Linked DNA regions of Homo sapiens. The protein of the gene in region 1 purifies or fractionates together with the protein of each later gene. This does not show direct contact. Each region holds a gene or a part of one and is shown on either strand. Other genes may lie near its edges.

The links.
Region 2: the proteins of UGT1A3 (region 1) and DCPH1 purify together in Homo sapiens (affinity purification with mass spectrometry; one large-scale study listed by BioGRID and IntAct). This does not show direct contact.

The regions. Positions count from the first base shown.
Region 1 is NC_000002.12:233,766,963-233,770,667, forward strand, and holds part of UGT1A3 (UDP-glucuronosyltransferase 1A3 precursor), read left to right. Parts: intron 1-71; coding exon 72-203; intron 204-886; coding exon 887-974; intron 975-1,257; coding exon 1,258-1,477; intron 1,478-3,705. Other genes in the region: UGT1A8 (UDP-glucuronosyltransferase 1A8 precursor), read left to right, coding at 72-203, 887-974, 1,258-1,477; UGT1A10 (UDP-glucuronosyltransferase 1A10 precursor), read left to right, coding at 72-203, 887-974, 1,258-1,477; UGT1A9 (UDP-glucuronosyltransferase 1A9 precursor), read left to right, coding at 72-203, 887-974, 1,258-1,477; UGT1A7 (UDP-glucuronosyltransferase 1A7 precursor), read left to right, coding at 72-203, 887-974, 1,258-1,477; UGT1A6 (UDP-glucuronosyltransferase 1A6 isoform 1 precursor), read left to right, coding at 72-203, 887-974, 1,258-1,477; UGT1A5 (UDP-glucuronosyltransferase 1A5 precursor), read left to right, coding at 72-203, 887-974, 1,258-1,477; UGT1A4 (UDP-glucuronosyltransferase 1A4 precursor), read left to right, coding at 72-203, 887-974, 1,258-1,477; UGT1A1 (UDP-glucuronosyltransferase 1A1 precursor), read left to right, coding at 72-203, 887-974, 1,258-1,477.
Region 2 is NC_000006.12:151,462,287-151,466,112, forward strand, and holds part of DCPH1 (damage-control phosphatase ARMT1), read left to right. Parts: intron 1-2,166; coding exon 2,167-2,332; intron 2,333-3,826. UniProt on the Homo sapiens protein: Metal-dependent phosphatase that shows phosphatase activity against several substrates, including fructose-1-phosphate and fructose-6-phosphate.

The DNA.
Region 1 (3,705 bases):
CATAACTTACTGTATGTAGTCATCAAAGAATATGAGAAAAAATTAACTGAAAATTTTTCTTCTGGCTCTAGGAATTTGAAGCCTACATTAATGCTTCTGGAGAACATGGAATTGTGGTTTTCTCTTTGGGATCAATGGTCTCAGAAATTCCAGAGAAGAAAGCTATGGCAATTGCTGATGCTTTGGGCAAAATCCCTCAGACAGTAAGAAGATTCTATACCATGGCCTCATATCTATTTTCACAGGAGCGCTAATCCCAGACTTCCAGCTTCCAGATTAATTCTCTTAATTGGAACCTTAGATTTGGCTTTTCCCTGCCACTTCCCAACTATTAATCCAAAGGTTTTTTTTGTTGTTGTGGTTGTTGTCATTGTTTTCAATTTGACTCTCAAATACTCTATTAAACTATGATCCACCACACTCAGAAGTATCATTTTCTCTAAGAGACTCAAAAGTGTATTAGGGAGAATTTATTTAAAAATAAAATAAATGGGATATTGTTTCTTCATATTAAATAGAAGTATTTCTCCAAAAAGCTGTTGGTTAGAACACTGAATTTATGTCTTACATTTCTGCTCTTATAGTTCTGCATCCACTTGTTTCATTAAGCAAACTTTCCCTTAAAGTGCAGGAAAGTGAAAAAATCCTAAGTGCACAGCTTGATAAATTATCACAAATTCACGTAGTGCATACACCCTTGTAACTAAACCTCCAAAACAAGATGCCGGAAGTTGCCAGTCCTCAGAAGCCTTCACAGTTACTGATCCTCCCACTCTGTTAAAGACTGTTCCTTCAGAGGACCCCTGTTTTCTAGTTAGTATAGCAGATTTGTTTTCTAATCATATTATGTTCTTTCTTTACGTTCTGCTCTTTTTGCCCCTCCCAGGTCCTGTGGCGGTACACTGGAACCCGACCATCGAATCTTGCGAACAACACGATACTTGTTAAGTGGCTACCCCAAAACGATCTGCTTGGTATGTTGGGCGGATTGGATGTATAGGTCAAACCAGGGTCAAATTAAGAAAATGGCTTAAGCACAGCTATTCTAAAGGATTGTTGAGCTTGAAAATATTATGGCCAACATATCCTACATTGCTTTTTATCTAGTGGGGTATCTCAACCCACATTTTCTTCTGCAAATTTCTGCAAGGGCATGTGAGTAACACTGAGTCTTTGGAGTGTTTTCAGAACCTAGATGTGTCCAGCTGTGAAACTCAGAGATGTAACTGCTGACATCCTCCCTATTTTGCATCTCAGGTCACCCGATGACCCGTGCCTTTATCACCCATGCTGGTTCCCATGGTGTTTATGAAAGCATATGCAATGGCGTTCCCATGGTGATGATGCCCTTGTTTGGTGATCAGATGGACAATGCAAAGCGCATGGAGACTAAGGGAGCTGGAGTGACCCTGAATGTTCTGGAAATGACTTCTGAAGATTTAGAAAATGCTCTAAAAGCAGTCATCAATGACAAAAGGTAAGAAAGAAGATACAGAAGAATACTTTGGTCATGGCATTCATGATAAAATTGTTTCAAATATGAAAACATTTACGTAGCATTTAATAGCGTTGTTTCAAATATAAAAACAAATACATAAAAATCTGGATTTTTATTTCTTCTTTTTTTTTTTTTTTTTTTTTTGAGATGGAGTCTTGCTCTGTCACCTAGGCTGGAGTGCAGTGGTGCAATCTTGGCTTACTGCAACCTCCACCTCCCACGTTCAAGCAGTTCTGCCTCAGCCTCCGTGTAGCTGGGATTACAGGTGTCCACCACCACGCCCGGTTAATTTTTGTATTTTTTAGTAGAGAAAGGGTTTCACCATGTTTGTCAGGCTGGTCTTGAACTCCTGACTTCAGGTGATCCACCTGCCTCGGCCTGCCAAAGTGCTGAGATTACAGGCATGAGCCAGCGCGTCTGACCTGGATTTATAAATAAGATAATTTAGAGGTTATTATTCACTTTATAAAAGGATTCTTTAGTTTCTATATAATTTATCATATAATTTATTTAGAATTTTATTTCCCCCATTAGATTTAAAACTCCAATTTACATAAAAAGTTGCCATAATAGACATCTGATCCATAAGTTTCCTGCACAGAAAGAAATACTCCATTATAAGAAGCATAGTATCTTTAAGAGAAAAACAACTCAAATGCTTAGAAGTACAGCTTTTTGCAGCACTGGAACCTGTGAGAAATTTTGTCCATGGAGTTTATGAATGAAGGAGCTATAAGATATCACAGACAAAGTCTTAGAATAAGAGCAAAGGAAAATTTGCTCAAATGTGGCCCTGAAAACGATTCAAAGGGCAAATGATTTCTGGATTAAAGTTAGTATATTACTGTCAAGCTCACTGGTAATAGGCTTATTAGAACCTTATGGGAAGAAGTGGTGGCCAGTGGTAGATTTCATCCGACAATAGATACTGTGTGCATATGTGCGTGTGCGTTTGTGCATGTGGCTGTGCTCATGTGTGGGTGCACACGTGTGCATTCATATGCGTGTGTGTGTGTGTGCGTGTGTTTATGAGAGTGTCCATTGCTTTCTCCCATGGTTACCTCCTTTAGAAAGAAGCAGCAGTCAGGAAGACAGATGTGAAGAGCTGGAGCATGTTCAGATGAGAGGAGACGGAACACGGGGACACACCAGCTTGAGCAAGGGACAACAGGGGAGGACTGATGACTGACTTCCCACCTTTGAGGTGCTAATGTGTGTGTGGTGGCACTGGATAAAAGATCAATGTTGGCTAGGCACCATGGCACACGCCTGTAGTCCCAGCCACTCTGGAGGCTAAGGCGGGAGGATTGCTTGAGCCCAGAAGTTGGAGGCTGCTATGAGCCGTGATCATGCCACTGCACTCCAGCAACCTGGGCAACAGAGTGAGACCCTGTCTCAAAAAAAAAAAAAAAAATGAAAAGTCCACATAACCTGAGCATCATGTGCCCAGAGCGTTGGGTGGTGTGGTCCCATTCCTTCCTTCCAGCGGCTTCTTCTGGCCACCTCAATGTCAGGATGTCCTGCTCACATATCAATACCATTAAAACCTGACTTCTTTCCCTGCACTGTTGAAGCTCCTTCTTGAGGCTCACATTATGGATATAATTTTGATTCTTTCTTCAGTGGTATAGATAACTACTTGTAACCTAAGAACAACTTGGTGAAAGTCCTCTAATACATTATTTTTTAAAAAAACACAAATCAATGAGCTCAACTTATTAACTAACTTTCATCTATTCATTTTTGAGCCATCCCTGTCTGATTGTGAATCTCCATGATTCCAACACTCTGAGCTGGGGATAGTGCCTACACAAAATAAAAAGAAGTGGAAAATTTTCAAACATCAGTTTATGCTGACAACCAGGCCATAATAGGTGCTCAATTACTATTGAATGAATGAATGAAAGTTCTGGCCAGGTACGGTGGCTCATGCCTGTAGTCCCAACACTTTGGGAGGCCGAGGCAGGTGGATCACTTGAGGTTAGGAGTTCGAAACCAACCTGACCAACATGAAGAAACCTTATCTCTACCAAAAAAATATAAAAAAATTACCCAGGCATGGTGGTGTATGCCTGTAATCCCAGCTATTTGGGAGGCTGAGGCAGGAAAATCACTTGAACCTGAGAGGCGGAGGTTGCAGTGAGCTGAGATTGTGCCACTCCACTCCAGCCTGGGCGACAGAGTGAGACTCCGTCTTACTTAAAAAA
Region 2 (3,826 bases), on another chromosome or scaffold:
GATCAAGAGACGGAACCTTACAGACCCCAAAAGTCCACTTTGAGTCCCTTTCCAGTCACTGCCTTCATTACTCCTCAAGGATAACCATTGTTCTGACCTGTGTTAGTTTTGCCTGTTTTTTAACTTTACTGAAATGAAATGATACAGTGTATAGTTTTGTGTCTGGCTTCTTTCACTCATTTTTATGTTTGTGAGACTCATCCATATGTTACAATATAATTATAGATCATTCATTCTCATTGCTTTATAATATTGCATTTTATGAGCATATTACAATCTGTTTACTTCGTTGTGATGGATATTTGAGTACTTTTCAGTTTGGAGTTGTTAGGAAGAATGCTGCTATAAACATTCTGACACTTTTTTGCTGAACATATGTATGAATACATCTGTTGGATATATCCCTCCCTAGAAGTGAATCACTGGGTCATAGTGTGTGTACATACACAGCTTTAGTAGATTCTAAAATAGAAAACATTCTAAAATGAGAATTTATATATAGTTATGTGAGTTTACTCTCTTAAATACGAAAATAAGGCTCATTCTTAATATGAGATGTGACTTTAATGAATGGTTTGTTAATAAAACATTAGAACATGTTTTATTAGAACTTTCTGTAAAGGGCCAGGTAGTAAATCTTTTAGGCATAGGGGCCATGTGGTCTCTGTTGCAGCTGCCGAACCTGCCATTGTCGTGTGAATGCAACCTTAAATAATATGTAAGAATGAGCATGGCTGTGTTCTAAAGAAACTTTATTCAGCGGACACCGAAATTTGAATTTCATGTGTTACAAAATACTACTTTTCTTTCACTTTGTTTTCAGCCATTCAAAAATATAAAAACCACTCTTAGCATGTGAGTCAGACAGAACAGGTGGTGGGCCGGATTGGGTCTGTGCATCCGAATGATTTTTATCCTTTTAAGTCACCTTGAGAGACTGACTGATTTCAGCGGTGCTGCCATTGCTAAAACCATCTTTGAATTATTTGGAACTTCTTTCAGAGCCAGTTTACATGCCTCAAAATGAAAATTAGTCTTCCTGTATTTTTACTCATTTTTGATTAAAAAAAAAGTTTTTATCCAATTTGATCACACACCTCATTCTACTGAAATCACTCCGAGTGACTTTTGGCTGTTTCCAAAAATAAATTGACTCCAAAGGATGAAGATATGTGATCACTGACAGGAGGTTTAATGATGTGCCATAGGTTCTGAAGAAAATTCCTAAAGAGGAATTCCAAAAGTGCTCTGAGCAATGGCAGCGCCCTTGGAATAAGGGTGTAGCTTCCCGAGGTGACTGACTGGCTGGAAGGAGGCAGCCATCATTTGGATGTTTAAATACTGGTATGTTATTTAAAAAAACAAAACAAAACAAATCAAGCCGATTACATCAGTGTTAGATTGTTTTTACCCTAACATGAATGACCCATGGAAAAAGTAGCTAATTTGGAAGACCCAATAATCTGAATGTCTTTTATATTCAATTCAGTAAAGATTATTATATTAGTATTTATATCTCCTTAGTTATGATTTTCTTAGGCCAATATAATATGATTTAATCTCTCACTGGAAAACATGAAGGTGTAGCCATGCCACATATATCACCTTTGGTTAAAGTTGCCCAAAAATACCTAAAATTAGTGATAAAAAATTATCATTCTTCTAAAACTTACAATAGTATTGTCTGATTTATCTTAAGTACTCATTGTATTTCCATCATACTCTGTGTTTCATTCTGTTAATGATTGCTGCATTGTATTCAAATATTCTGTTTATATTCTATACATTTGTTACTGGAACTCTGCCACATCGGTGGTTAAAAAATGTTTGTTGAACTAAAGCAGTTGTCTTGAAATTTATCTTTCTCCTTCTTGTGCCCTGGAATCCCTGCTAGGTAGATAATTATGAGCATAGTCACTATCACTATTTAATATGTCCAGAAAAATACTTGATTTGGGAACTTTTTTGACAATTAAAATGAGTTTGAGAGATTTTTGTGTAATTTGATTATTTAGTATTAAGTTTTTCTAGTTAATTAGATAAATGTTATATCTAGTTTCTGTTAGCACTGATTATTGAGACTGTATGGTGCTATTTTCTTTCAAGAACTGCAGTTATCCAAATGTACAAACTAAAATGTTTCACTTTGTTTTTCTCCTACTTTAGTCCACCAATCGATTACTTTGATGTATTTAAAGAATCAAAAGAGCAAAATTTCTATGGGTCACAGGAATCCATCATTGCTTTATGTACTCACCTGCAACAATTGATAAGAACTATTGAAGACCTAGATGAAAATCAGCTGAAAGATGAGTTTTTTAAACTTCTGCAGGTAAATGTGATCATTAATCTTCTGAGTATGTTTTATTTAAACAGAAAATAAACTGCTATACAGTTAACAAAACATGTAAATATTTTTCTTTGCTATAATTGATGATTTTTTATCTAGTGGTGTTAAAAGATGAAAATCCATTTAATTGCTAGAAATGGGTTTGAAATATTTTTCTGCTCTCACTGGCTATGATTTTAGTGGCAAAGAAGTTATCTGACTTCCTAGCTTCTGTCATACTTGAGAGAATACTTCATAGTAATTTGCTTAGCTTTTGTCATGCTTGAAAGAATTCTTAATAGTAATTTGGTCTCCCAGCTGACTTGGGTGTGTGTTGGCTCTGTGGCTAATTTGTGTTTGGACCTGAGGCCTGTCACTTAATTTCTCTGGGCCTCAGTTTCCTCCTCTGTTCAGTGAGGATAATGTGTACTGTGTAATTTGATGTGAGAATTCAACTAGATGCTTGCATGTGAAGTGCTGAGCACAGAGCCTGGGATACAGCCTGCTGTTAGCATCGGTAGGTGATAATACTCGGGTATTCAGTTGGCCCATTAATACAGTTTCATTACATTTCTTTATCTTGTATTCAGTTTAGTTTTTAATTCATGCAAACATCCTGAAATTTACAACACATTATTAGAATCAGAACTATTAGGAGACGTGGTACACAGCAGTATCCCCAGCCCTCACATTTTCCAGAAAAAGTGAGGAAGACTTTCAAAAAGAAATGTTAGAAAGTGCTATGAAGAGAAATAAAGCAGGAAAAGGGCGTTGGGAATGTTGGAGAAGGGATCAGGGCTGCCAGGGAAGGGTCCATGGAGGCTGAGGCCACAGACCTGAAGGCAGGGAAGGAGTAAGTCAGGTGTATGTCTGCGGAGTACATGGAGAGGTGAGAAAAATTGCAAGGAAACCCTGTAGTTACTGAGAGGTAGCGGGGTGGAAGGGACACAGAACGGCTTGTATTAAATAAATTTTTACTAAAAGTGAAACAGAAGCCATCAGAGGGTTTTGAACAGAGAGGTAATGCTATTTGACTATTTCAAGGAATGTTTCTGAGAATAGACTGCAGGGGCTGAAGGTGGAAATGGGGAGAGCTGGTCTGAAAATGACTTGGGGAGGGAGGTTGGGGCCAAGTTGGTAGCATAAGAGTTAGTGACATCACCAGAGCCTGGGTGTTCTTTGAACATAGAAGCTACAGAACTTGCTAACAGATTATACCTGGAGACGAAGCCCTGGTGAGACCCCGAGGGCAAGCAAAGTCACAAATAAAGGCATATTTTGAGTTCAAAACAAAAATTGTCAGGACATTGTTTTGTTTTTTGAGACAGAGTCTCGCTCTGTTGCCCAGGTTGTAGTGCAGTGGCACGATCTCAGCTCACTGCAACCTCCGTCTCCCGGGTTTAAGCAATTCTCCTGCCTCAGCCTCCTGAGTAGCTGGAATTACAGGCGTATGCCACCACACCTGGCTAATTTTTGTATTTTTAGTAGAGACTGGGT